Linked DNA regions of Homo sapiens. The protein of the gene in region 3 interacts with the protein of the main gene of each other region in a biochemical or structural test. Each region holds a gene or a part of one and is shown on either strand. Other genes may lie near its edges.

Evidence for each region. Proteins that work in one complex are often made in the same cells at the same time.
Region 1: the proteins of LNX2 (region 3) and KCNJ4 interact in a test that uses a peptide from one of them, tested with the Homo sapiens proteins (one large-scale study listed by IntAct).
Region 2: the proteins of LNX2 (region 3) and CRHR1 interact in a test that uses a peptide from one of them, tested with the Homo sapiens proteins (one large-scale study listed by IntAct).
Region 4: the proteins of LNX2 (region 3) and DGKH interact in a test that uses a peptide from one of them, tested with the Homo sapiens proteins (one large-scale study listed by IntAct).

The regions. Positions count from the first base shown.
Region 1 is NC_000022.11:38,425,827-38,428,513, reverse strand, and holds the end of KCNJ4 (inward rectifier potassium channel 4), read left to right. Parts: intron 1-342; 5' UTR 343-381; coding exon 382-1,719; 3' UTR 1,720-2,187; downstream 2,188-2,687. UniProt on the Homo sapiens protein: Inward rectifier potassium channels are characterized by a greater tendency to allow potassium to flow into the cell rather than out of it.
Region 2 is NC_000017.11:45,783,012-45,787,119, forward strand, and holds the start of CRHR1 (corticotropin-releasing factor receptor 1 isoform 2 precursor), read left to right. Parts: upstream 1-1,308; 5' UTR 1,309-1,533; coding exon 1,534-1,566; intron 1,567-4,108.
Region 3 is NC_000013.11:27,561,530-27,565,029, forward strand, and holds part of LNX2 (ligand of Numb protein X 2), read right to left. Parts: intron 1,253-3,500; coding exon 884-1,252; intron 1-883.
Region 4 is NC_000013.11:42,240,648-42,243,396, forward strand, and holds the end of DGKH (diacylglycerol kinase eta), read left to right. Parts: 3' UTR 1-2,249; downstream 2,250-2,749.

The sequences.
Region 1 (2,687 bases), on a different chromosome or scaffold from region 3:
ACAGGGAGGAACCAAGATGGGCATCAGGAAGCTTCCAGAACAGTGAGCATAGGAGGGCCGGAGGGGCAGTGTTGAGGGGCAGGGACTAGGACCTGGATCCTTGTGGCTTTAGCTTCCTGGTCTATGGACCCCAGTCTCTAAGCTGGGCCGGACTGGGTGGCACTGGCTCAGACCCTGTCATCAGAGCCACCTCTGCTGCCACCCTCCGCCTGCCGGGGCAGAGGAAGTCTTAGGTCCTGGTCCAGGCTCACCTGCTTCTGAGAGTCTTGGGGCTGAGTCTGAGTGGCCCCGAGGGAGCCCCTCGCTCCCCAGCATCTCACCTGTCCGGCTTCTCCTCCGCAGGCCCTGCGTCTTCCCAGGTGACCACGCCGGCTTCAGGACATGCACGGACACAGCCGCAACGGCCAGGCCCACGTGCCCCGGCGGAAGCGCCGCAACCGCTTCGTCAAGAAGAACGGCCAATGCAACGTGTACTTCGCCAACCTGAGCAACAAGTCGCAGCGCTACATGGCGGACATCTTCACCACCTGCGTGGACACGCGCTGGCGCTACATGCTCATGATCTTCTCCGCGGCCTTCCTTGTCTCCTGGCTCTTTTTCGGCCTCCTCTTCTGGTGTATCGCCTTCTTCCACGGTGACCTGGAGGCCAGCCCAGGGGTGCCTGCGGCGGGGGGCCCGGCGGCGGGTGGTGGCGGAGCAGCCCCGGTGGCCCCCAAGCCCTGCATCATGCACGTGAACGGCTTCCTGGGTGCCTTCCTGTTCTCGGTGGAGACGCAGACGACCATCGGCTATGGGTTCCGGTGCGTGACAGAGGAGTGCCCGCTGGCAGTCATCGCTGTGGTGGTCCAGTCCATCGTGGGCTGCGTCATCGACTCCTTCATGATTGGCACCATCATGGCCAAGATGGCGCGGCCCAAGAAGCGGGCGCAGACGTTGCTGTTCAGCCACCACGCGGTCATTTCGGTGCGCGACGGCAAGCTCTGCCTCATGTGGCGCGTGGGCAACCTGCGCAAGAGCCACATTGTGGAGGCCCACGTGCGGGCCCAGCTCATCAAGCCCTACATGACCCAGGAGGGCGAGTACCTGCCCCTGGACCAGCGGGACCTCAACGTGGGCTATGACATCGGCCTGGACCGCATCTTCCTGGTGTCGCCCATCATCATTGTCCACGAGATCGACGAGGACAGCCCGCTTTATGGCATGGGCAAGGAGGAGCTGGAGTCGGAGGACTTTGAGATCGTGGTCATCCTGGAGGGCATGGTGGAGGCCACGGCCATGACCACCCAGGCCCGCAGCTCCTACCTGGCCAGCGAGATCCTGTGGGGCCACCGCTTTGAGCCTGTGGTCTTCGAGGAGAAGAGCCACTACAAGGTGGACTACTCACGTTTTCACAAGACCTACGAGGTGGCCGGCACGCCCTGCTGCTCGGCCCGGGAGCTGCAGGAGAGTAAGATCACCGTGCTGCCCGCCCCACCGCCCCCTCCCAGTGCCTTCTGCTACGAGAACGAGCTGGCCCTTATGAGCCAGGAGGAAGAGGAGATGGAGGAGGAGGCAGCTGCGGCGGCCGCGGTGGCCGCAGGCCTGGGCCTGGAGGCGGGTTCCAAGGAGGAGGCGGGCATCATCCGGATGCTGGAGTTCGGCAGCCACCTGGACCTGGAGCGCATGCAGGCTTCCCTCCCGCTGGACAACATCTCCTACCGCAGGGAGTCTGCCATCTGACCTCCAGGCCCGGCCCTCACCACTGCCCACAAGAGCCTCTGCCGGGGGTGGGATGCCAGGACACCCCCTCCCACACTCAGGACAGAGCCAACCCTGGCTCCGTGGACCTTCTGGAGGAAGGTGGGGGTTTCAAAGACTGGGGGACCCCTTCCTCCTGACTCCAGCACCCAGGCCTGGGAAGAGCTCGGCCCCGATCAGCCTGAGTTCCGCCAGCGCCTACTTCTGGTGGCTCTAGGTCCCCGGATCCACCACCCTTCCCCCACTGACTCTTCAAGGACGTGCCCTCTTTGCTCTCAGAACCTTGGGGAAGGTGGCTGGACTGCTGGGCGGGGGACATCTCGGGGTTTCAGGGTGGGCAGGGGGTTAGTTTGGGGAGGGGGGGGTGCGTTTCTTTTGCATGACTGTGGCCTGTTGCTCATGACTTTCTTTTGTAAATATCTATAAATGGAGACAGATGGAGACACCAAATTCACTTTCTGCCGTTTTTACCTGCTGGACAGGGAGATGCAGTCCCTCTCTGTGCACCCCTCCCCACCCAGCCCATCAAGCCTAGCGCCTTCCCCTGCCCAGCTGGCTGGCCCCTTGAGGCCCTCAACGCCAGCCACCTTGGCCCTTGGATGGTGTTGGGTTTGGGTGCAGAGGAGGGACTCTGAGGGGTGGGATGAGGGACCATCCCTCCCTCCCTGCAGTCCCTCCAGCCCCGGGCCCAGCCCAGATTGACAACAGAGTTTGTAACCATATATATATATATATATATATATTTTTTTTTTATTTTTTATTATTATTTTTTTTTCTTGAGACGGAGTTTTGCTCTTGTTGCCCATGCTGGAGTGCAATGGAGCAATCTCGGCTCACTGCAACCTCCGCTTCCCAGGTTCGAGCGATTCTCCTGCCTCAGCCTCCTGAGTAGCTGAGATTACAGGCATGAGCCACCATACTCAGCTAAGTTTTGTATTTTTAGTAAAGAT
Region 2 (4,108 bases), on a different chromosome or scaffold from region 3:
GAGAAGAGGGCAGGAGGGAGGAGTAGGGTGGGCACGGCAGGGCACAGGGTGCAGGGCAGGTGGGTTCAGTTTGATTTCAAAGCCGACTGCCCGCCGCCCCAGGTGCTCTGGTGTACCCAATAGGGGCTGCATTGGCCAGGCGGCCTAGGCTCTGCGGGTGGAGTGAAGATTTCTCTACCTCCCAGTTTCTCCCTTTTCAGCTCTGGTAGGAGAGAGGAAGAGTGAAGAGGAAGTCAAAAGTTCTGTTCATCTGGAAGGGCTGGGAGTTGCTTCCTGGGATGGGGAGCTCCGAAGCCAATTCAGAAGACGGCCCCGGGGTCTGGCGGGGAGGCCCACCGCTGCCCAGAGGGCTCGGCCGGCCGGGAGGGGGCGCTGTGTCCTCCCCACGCCCTGCCCGCGGGCTCCTAGCAGCGTTCGCCGCGCTGCAACGCAATGCGCGCCCGGCTTTCCCCTGGGCAGCGTTCAGTGCCCGCTTGTCCTGCAGGGCACCGCCGTCTCCCTTTCATCCTGGGGCTCCCAGGTCCAAAGGGTTCCCAGATCCAGCCTCTTGCCTGAACCAAAGTGGCCAGGCACTCAGTTTGTAAGATGAACAAATGAAGGAAAGAAGGAACGAATGAATAAGGGCTCATCTTGCAGAGCGTTCGCGTCTCAGCGCGCACCAGGCACATCAGTGCCAAAGGTGCTGGGGGTCGGGCCCAGCGCCCGGCGCGGCTGGAATGGGGGCGGCGAGGAGCTCCTCCTAGCCAGCCGCAGGGCGGGAACTGCCCAAACGCAGGTCGCAGCCTCACTGGGTTCCGCGGCGGCTCCGCTCAGTAGGGACCGCCCTGTTCCCTAGCCCCCAATAGCCTCGCCCTCATAAATTCACCTGAGCACCCTGGCCCAAGTCACCCCAGATCCCTGGGACTTCCCAGGCCCCGACCTCGGCCGGGCGGGAGGCTGATCCTTTACCGCGGCCCCCTTCCCCCATTCCCGGCTTCTCCCCGGGCTGCGGCGGCCGCCACTGCTGCCAGCGCGCCCCGAGGACTGCCGCAAACCCCGGGCGCAGGGAAAGGGGATCCTGGCGGCGGGACACAGAGAGCGGGCCGGGGGAAGGGGAGGGAACGGAGGAGGCGAGGAGGAGCTGGGAGGGAGCCGAGGGGCGAGGCGCGGAGGAGGGACCGAAGGGGAGCGGAGGGGAGAGGGAGGGGGAGGAAGGGGAGGGGACGAGCTGGGCGAGGGGGCGGGGAGCCGAGGCGAGGAGCGGCGCGGACCGTGGGGGAGGTGGCGGGGGCGAGGCCGGCAAGAGGCGGCCGCGGGCCGGGCTGCGTCGGGAAACGGCGGCCAGACTTCCCCGGGAAGGGGCGAGCGAGAGCCGGGCCGGGCCGGGCCGGGCCGCGGGGCCGGGAAGCGCCGAGCCGGGCATCTCCTCACCAGGCAGCGACCGAGGAGCCCGGCCGCCCACCCCGTGCCGCCCGAGCCCGCAGCCGCCCGCCGGTCCCTCTGGGATGTCCGTAGGACCCGGGCATTCAGGACGGTAGCCGAGCGAGCCCGAGGATGGGAGGGCACCCGCAGCTCCGTCTCGTCAAGGTAACAGCCCGCCGGCCATCCCTCGAGCGCTGGCGCCCCCGGCCCCTGGCGGACGCGGGACGGGGCTGGGCTGTGGGTGTGATGGGGGCGGGGGCGCTGGGAGAGCCGTGCTTAGGTCGGGGAAGGCTGGGCTCCGGGGCAGCCTAACTCTCTGGACCTTTGGAGCCAGGGTTGGGTAGGCAGGGGGAGACTCAGGTGAGAAAAGAAATCGTGGCGAAGCCGCCGGGATGTTGGCGGAGGAGGGGGTCCGCCCACCCGGGTAGCCGGCTCCGCGCCAAGAATCGCTCTAGGCTCTCGGGCAGACGCCTAGGGGAGGGGAGGTTCCACCTCCCACGCCCTTCCTGCAGACCTCGGCCCCGGGACTGGAGACTCTGAAGCGGGGTTCCCACCTCGCCCCAGCGCCCCCAAACAGCTCCCCGACTCCGCACGCCCCCGCCCTAGTCTTGGGAGCGCGTCCTGCCCCTTCCCCTCCGCGGCGAGCTGCGAGTCCGGAGAGATGAATGCCGCCCGCGCCTGCGAGCCCTTGATCAATATCGCAGTCTCGGGGGAGGAGACGGTGCCTCTGGCGGCAGTTCCTGTTCCCCGACCGCGGCTGGGAGCGCGACGCTCGTTCTCCGAGCCTGGGCACCCGCGATCCCCGCGCTGCGCGGCCGACCCTGCGACGCGGATCGGGCGCTGGAGTTTAGGAAAGTAGCCAGACCGCACGTCCAGCGTCTGCCCGCTGAAGTTCGTGGGCGGTGGGGGCGGCCCGCGGGTTGTGTGAGCCAGGGAAGGGCCGGGAGGCCGGCAGTCCGGCCCGCCGCTCGTGTCAGGCGTCACTTGCAGCCCCAAGCGCTTTCCAGAGCGTTTTGGTTTTGCAGGGTATAGGCGCGCCCGCTGCAGCCGGCCGGAGAGGCGGGTGGGCCTCTGCGCTGCTGCCGGGACACCCCGCTTCGCGCCAGTCTGGGCATCGCCTCACCCGGGGCTCGGGACTCCGCAGGGTCCGCTCCAGCCACAAACATAGACACCAGCTTGACCCGGCTCAGGGCATTCAGAGCGATTACATTCAAGAGACTTCGGTGGATTTGGGGGAGGGGTGCGGATTGGCGGAATTTCATTTTTCCATCAGTTATTAAACCAACTGTACGTATACCGGCTTACCAAGTGGTTTGAGTTAAACCACCAAGATTTTTAAATGCAGCAGCTGCTGCTTCCTTAGTTGAGACGTTACAAGTTACTGAGATTTTTCTCTAATCCTGCCCCTCCCCAAATATTTATAAATTGATTCTTAAAATGATCAAGGGTTGGTCTTACTGAACCCACATCCCCTCCCCCATCCGTTACCTGAGGGCTAGGGATGAACTCAGATTATTTTCTGGGCGTTCGAGGAGACAGACAGGTGAGGAAGGTAGAAGAAAAACATCCAGAGAGGTCGAGTAGTTGGCACTGAATGGGAATAGTTTCCAAAAGGCTCGCGTGTACCGAAGCCTGGTCTAAATGCACAAACCAGTTAGACCAAATTCAGTCTTTTAAATGGATTCAAAGAACTGAACTGCGGGTGTTTTCTTTTCTTTTTTTTTTTTTCAGGTTTACGCGGAAATAGATCAATGTTCTTTTTCTGGCCTTTCATAGAATTGTGTGCAAATCTCTGTTTAGAATGATCATGTTTTCCTTAAAAAAGTCTTTTTATTTCCTTTGTTCCTACTAGATGGTGGGGTGTTTGCCCTTTATGCCTGGCCTAATAAACTCAGTAGGCATTCAATAAATTCCAGATGAATGTGGGGCAGTGAGTGAATGGCCAGCGAATGCTGGTTTCAAACGTTGGTTACAATTAAATAGTTGCTTTTCTTCTTTTATTTATGTAGCATGTACAATTCACTGGGCATTATTCTACCTGCTTTGCAAATATTAAGTCATTTAGTCCTCCTAACAGCCCTAGGAAGTAGGAATTATTCCTGAGACACAGAGAGGCTAAGTAACTGGTTCAAGGTCACACAGCCAGTGAGTAGTGAAGTCAGAATTCAAACCCAGACACTCTGATAAAAGGCTTTGTTTTGTTTGCTTTTACCAGAAAATATCCTTTTTTTTTTTTTTTTTTTTCAAGACAGGGTCCCACTCTGTCGCCCAGGTTGGAGTGTAATGGTGTGATCATGGCTCACTGAAGCCTCAACCTCCCTAGGCTCTGGTGATCCTCCCACCCCAGCCTCCAGAATAGCTGGGACCACAGGCATGCACCACCACACCCAGCTAATCTTTGTATTTTTTGTAGAGATGGGGTTTCCCCATATTGCCCTGGCTGGTCTCAAACTCCTGGGCTCAAGCGATCAGCCAGCCTCGGCCTCCCAAAGTGCTAGGATTACAGGCATGAGCCACCATGCCCGGCCATTACCAGAAAATATTCGAAGCCACCTAAATCTCACTCTAGAGCTCAGCCAGATGAGAGCTCAGGTAGTTTTGTCAGCATGAGAGTACAAATCTAGGGGATTTAGGGTTAATCCCAAATCCAGCTCCATCCCCAACAAGTCAGCCAGTGTTGGGAAAGGGTCCACTCTGGGGCCTATAT
Region 3 (3,500 bases):
AATTAGACCAATATCAGAATCTCCTCTCAATACAATAAAGAGAGTTGAGACTTGAATTTTCTTATAGTCTTAAATTTTCATTGTTATTTGATTCTGTGTTGTAAACACATTCTTCAATGACTATCGGCCTACCCTACTTCCTGATCCTCAATTACATAATTCTTGGTTTCCTTTACAGTGTTTTGTTTTGCTAACTTTAAGAAAAACATCTTTTTGTTGCACCCTTATCACTGTAGAAGTTGCTCATATCATTAAATGCTATGGCATGTTGCAGAATGTATAGATCTCCTCTGGATGACTTTCCAACTTATCCATCTTCATGCTTTTATGAAAAACATGTTCTTTCTCTAATAATGACTATCCTTACTTATGTCACAAAGATGCTATGAGGACAAATTTTATCATGTATTTTAAACACTGTGAATTCCTTAGAAACAACAACAAAGCACTATAGAGATAAGAGTTATTCTTCCTCTATTTATATAGATCCTGACAGGGAGTTAAGAGACCAGGTAAGTCAGATCCTTGGTAATCACAGCTCTTTTGAGCCTCCCTTTCCTCACTTCTAAAAGGTGGACATATCATCTGCTACATCTGGCTTAATAGTAGAACCCAGGACCCAAATGAGAAATGAATGTGAAACAGTAGAGCCTACGCTCTGTAAATAACCATCCCCAAAATTCACAGGGATATAGTTTTTAGAAAAGACTATCTCCAATGAAGTTATACTAGTGTGGATTTTAAAGAATTCAGGTAGCCACACCCGATTTTCTAATGAAATATAAAATGTCCCCTGAATTCTGATGTTATTGGCCAGTGAAAACAAATACTACTATATGATCATTTCGGCCAAGCCTTTGGAATGAAGGCCAAGAGGGTTTACCTGAATAATCTGGGCAGCAAGCTCCGGAGTTCCATACTTCAGGTCGTGCCCATTGATGGCCAGCACTCGGTCATTGCTGCTTAGCCTGCCGTCCTGGGCAGCCAACCCCCCTTCCAACAGGTCAAGAATAAAAACCCCTGGCTCATCTGTCCTTCGCACCAATTTAATGCCAAGCTGTTCACCAGAGTCCCGTTTATGAAGAGCCACTTGGAAAATCTCTTCTCGTGGAGAGTTACTATCAGAATGGTTGTGTGCTCGGTTGCCAAAGCGCCTCTCTCGAAGCACAGTAAGATGCAGTGTGTTGCAGGGCTGGGAAAGGACAGCTCGGGCATAGTTATGGGACACATTGCTGATATTGTAGTTGTTGACCTAGAAAAAAAGAATTGTGACCGAAGTGTGACAACCTTTTATTTTTCCAATTTGTAGGAATGTTTATGTGACATTTCCACAGGAAACTAAGTATTGTGAGAGTGCTAAGTATGGTGAGAATGCTATACAATCATTATTTACAAAGAAAACCACATTAAAGACATTTAAAAACAGAGTTTCTAATATTAACTTACAGTGACTAGCATCAAGGAGAGAATAGTAGCTAGGATCACGGGCTTTAATGACGGTCTTGAATTAGAGTCCTAGGTACTACCATTTACTAACTGATAACTTAGGCAAATTATAGAACTTGTCTGAATGAGTCTCCTCATCTGTAAAATGTGTTTACTTCATGGGATCAGTATGAGAATGAACAGATTAACATGGGGCAAGTGCTAATGAAATAAATACTAATTCTAGTGGAACAGAAATTTAAGTTTTACTAGATTACAAATTTGCTTCTTCCAAATTAAATACACTTAAGCTAGAGAAAATAAATTGTTATTTTAAGGAAAGTAGCACATTTCAGGTATACAAACTTATTTTAGATAAGTGACTTTTACCTGAAAGAAAACCAGGTTAATTGTAATTTCACTCTAATTCTTCAGCACAGAAATATTAGGTTGGTGCAAAAGTAATTACGGTTTTTACCATTAAAAGTAAAATATAATGTATATCTAATGCATTATTCAATACTCATATAACATTTATGTATTCACCTTTATAATCTCAAAAAAAGTATAGTGACTGATCCTTGGGTATGTAACAGCACTTAGAAAATACACCTAACTTCAATTATTTCTTTAGTTACAAGAGATGAGCATGATTCTTAGCATTTATCACAATTAGAGTTCTTCTCTGAATCGGTCTGAGATGAAACCAACATCCTCTGACCATCTGTTATATGACAGGCTCTGAGTTAGGTGTTTATGATCACCTAAAATTCTTACATCTTTTTCACACAAATCCACATTAGGCAAGACTTTCCTCTTCCTATTGACTTAGGATTGATAGTTGTAAATACTATTTTGAATTTTGTTGATTTTGACCTATTAACACCTTTCAGAATTCAGTCACCAAATGCACAGATGTCACACACAAACTTGCTTTCTCCCAAGTCTGCAACATCTATTAATTTGGTAGTCATCCAAGTCCTTGGTAAAAGTATTGAATAATACAGGGTCAAGAATGGAACTTCTGAAGTTCTATTATATTTAGAAAGCAGCTTCTAAAAATCCACGCAGATATAGATTCATTAGTCAAACCACCATTTCCAACTATTTAGCTACAAAGCTACCTACCTGTAGGTTCACATTTTTCTGTCTTATATTCAGACATATCACACATATCACAAATGACTTTACAAAACGTCTGGCTAAAATCCAGCCATGTGTAAACATGCAGCCTCATAACATCTTTGTGAAGCAGGCTGGGGAATATTCTACAACTGGAAAAAGATTTTTCCTCCAGGAATGCATGGTTGCCAGTGAAATTCAGAGAAAGCAGAAACCAAATAAAATATTGTTTCTAGATTTTGTAAAAATAACATCAGCATAGCAAACTATCTCATTTTTGAGCTAAATGTATTTTTTTATCAATCAACAGCTGTAATTATTTTCCTTCAGAACTGAAAATGCCATTATTGATGACTTCATTAAACTGAAAATACTTATTCTTAATAATGTTCTAAGTTATATTACTTTTATTAATGATATTGAGGTAATTTATAATAGCAGTATTTTTTTTTCTTCAAAACTGCTCAAAGAGGCTGCATATGAAACTCTAAGAGTAGCAAAAAGCTCTAACAGCATATGGTTCTCCTTTTCAAAGAGGCTATTTAATAACATTTGTATATGTAAATAAATATATATAAATGTGGGAAAACCACCAAAGCCACACACTGCTTATGTATATGGTCTGCAAAAATGAAAATGCAAGCTAGCTCTCTGGTCTGCAAATCAACCATCTTACTGCCTCTTCGAGATTTTCAAATTGGCTCACTGTGTTATATTTATTTAGCTTATACAAAGTTGGAGGTAACCAGATAGTAAAAAATACCAATAGGCCTCTTTCCAAGTGTTTACTCTTGAATAACCATAAATAGTCCATATGTGGGAAAGGGGGGTGGCTTTACTTGGCTCCAACACACCAGTTAAAAGCCAACCAGAAGTCAGGGCCTATAATAGGAGAGACCCTTTGTGAATTCATTAATCAGATTATGTGCTCAGACTTTTCTTATCAATTTGAA
Region 4 (2,749 bases), about 15 Mb from region 3:
TAAACATAAGAAGGCTTGTGACTCTTATCACCCTCTATAGAATATAAAGACTAAAAATAAAAACTATTACCTCTGGGCCTGTTTTTCTTTGGGATTAGATAAAGCCTTTCTACCATATCACCAAATACTCATAAAGGCTAACACAGAAAGCTTTTCCAAGTTAATAATTTCTAAAATTAAATATCAGGGCCAGGTGTGGTGGCTGACACCTGTAATCCCAGCACTTTGGGAGGCCGAAGTGGGTGGATTACCTGAGGTCAGGAGCTCGAGACAAGTCAACATGGTGAAACCTCATCTCTGCTAAAAATACAAAAACTAGCCAGGCATGGTGATGCACACCTGTAATCCCAGCTACTCGGGAGGCTGAGGCAGGAGAATTGCTTGAACCCAGGAGGCGGAGGTTGCAGTGAGCTGAGATTGCACCACTGCACTCCAGCCTGGGCGACAGAGTGAGACTCTGTCTCAAAAAAAAGAAAAAAAATCAAAATAATTGTAATTAACTGAAATGCCCTGTTCCTTCATTCACTTGATAGACTTTTCTACCTGCTCTATACTTGGCACTCAATTAGATTCTGGGGATACAGATAAAATAAGACAAAGCTCCCATCTGGTAGAGTCCAAGTTTGTTTTCACAGTTATTTTTCCACAGTCTGTTTAAGGTATTAGGAGGACTTTTATAAACCGAGTGTTTTTCAGGTTACTTCAGAGAGGAGTCTCCTTCCACCCAAAAAAACTAACCAAATTATTTTATCATAAAGAGGTAATCCCATTTTTATGTCCACAATTTTTACATTTTTGTATCAGCCACCAATAATTTTGACTGTTTTGTCAAGTACATATTTCATCAATCCTATTTCCACAGCCGTACATGTGATCCCAGTGACTGATAGATCTGTAGAATGTGAACTCACATTTAAAGTTTATTTTGGGAAGGCATATATGCCTTTTGATGACACACACACCAAAATATATAAGAGCTGTGCATGGTAAACCCACAGTAGAAGGGAAAAAGTAATGCTTTCTGGTATACTTCAGAGGCTCCATTTGAAGATGTGCGTTGATGTTTCCTTGATTATTTTGAATGAGGAGTAGGCGGTAATATTTAACAGGTAGCATACGTATCTAAGCATATAGTAAATATTACTAGTACTTGTGTGCCATGAGGCACTAATACATAGGTGAAACAAAAATATTTTTAGTTCTAAAAAATTCTCTAGATATTTATGGATGGTTAGGCAATAGGGTTCCTTCATGAGAAGGAAAAAACTGTATCTTTATTGTCAGTAAGTGTGGAAAAAAACCCGACTTGTATGTGTATTCACAGTTTGATAGGCATATTTTGAAGTCATTGTTTTCCATCAGTATTAAGTATCATCCATTTCTATGTTCTCTAGCAAAAGAAAATTCTTAGTGTGATACAGCTTTACTCTTTGTTTGACTTTGTACAAGGTCCACAAAAGGAGGAGGCTCAAAAGATTGGACACTTTACCCTGACATTCAGCACATTCATTTTATCTTTCGATAAAGATAACCAGAAATCATTTGCCTCTTGTTTATTATCATGTTGAAAACACAACAGTATAGTTCCTTTTGTCCCTTACATTGGAAAAGGTATTTTAAATTTAGCCTTGCCGTATTATTTATAGTTAGGAATTTACTACATTTTGGTAGTCTGTTTTGAAACTAAGCACTTGTGTCTGAAAGATGCAGATAATATCTATCTATTTATTACACAGTGGGCTCTGTTTGCTGCAGAAAAGAGTGAAACTTTTAACTGCTTAGCACACTTGCCAGTGAAATATACCTGACAGAGCAGAGGTTATAACTTTGGCTCTAATTACTTTTAGTAATGGTAAGACAACGTGAGTTTTGTTTGTTTACATGCTGTTTACAATGGCATAATTTTAAAAATATATACAATTGAGATATTTATTGCCTACTATTTTAAAGATGTTTTATGTGTTTTCACCTTTGGAATATATTGTTACATTTCCTTGTACAGATAATTTTGGTGGCTTTGTTAATGTAGCTAGTAATTTTTATGACTACTAAGTGACCAGTTTTCGGTGCCTTTTATTGTGGGATGCATGATTATGTATTTATTGTACGGAAGTCACTGACGTGTGTATTTTTGTACTTTGCTGAAAGTAATGGTTGATCCTGATGTACATGATGATGAAAGACATCTTTCCCAAAGGGCACTGCCTTGAGATCATCCTTCTCAAATAAAAAGAATGCATTTGAAGAAAGTGTGAAGTCTACGTTGTTTCTGGTGGGAAATCTTTTTTAAAATTAAACTTTTAATTTTGAGACAATTGTAGATTCACATGCAGTTGTAAAAAATAATGCAGAGAGAGCTCGTGTACCCTTTACCCATTTCCCCTCCAAAGGTAACATCTTGCAAAGCTGTAGTACAGTATCACAACCAGGACATTGAGATGCATAAGGTCACAATGCTGAACAGTTCTATCACCACAAGGACCCGTAATACAGATCCCTCATGTTTCCCTTTTATAGGCATACCTACTTCCCTCTTGCCCTCACACACTTCTTAACCCCGGGCAACCACTTCTATACTTTTATCATTTCAAGAATATTACATAAATGGAATCATACAGTATGCGATTTTTTTTCACTTTAGAATAATTCCCTGGAGATTCATCTAAATTGTGTGTATTGATAGTTCATTTCTTCTTATTGCTGAGTAGTCTCGCATCTGGTGAAGGAATTCTTGATTGTAAGAACATAA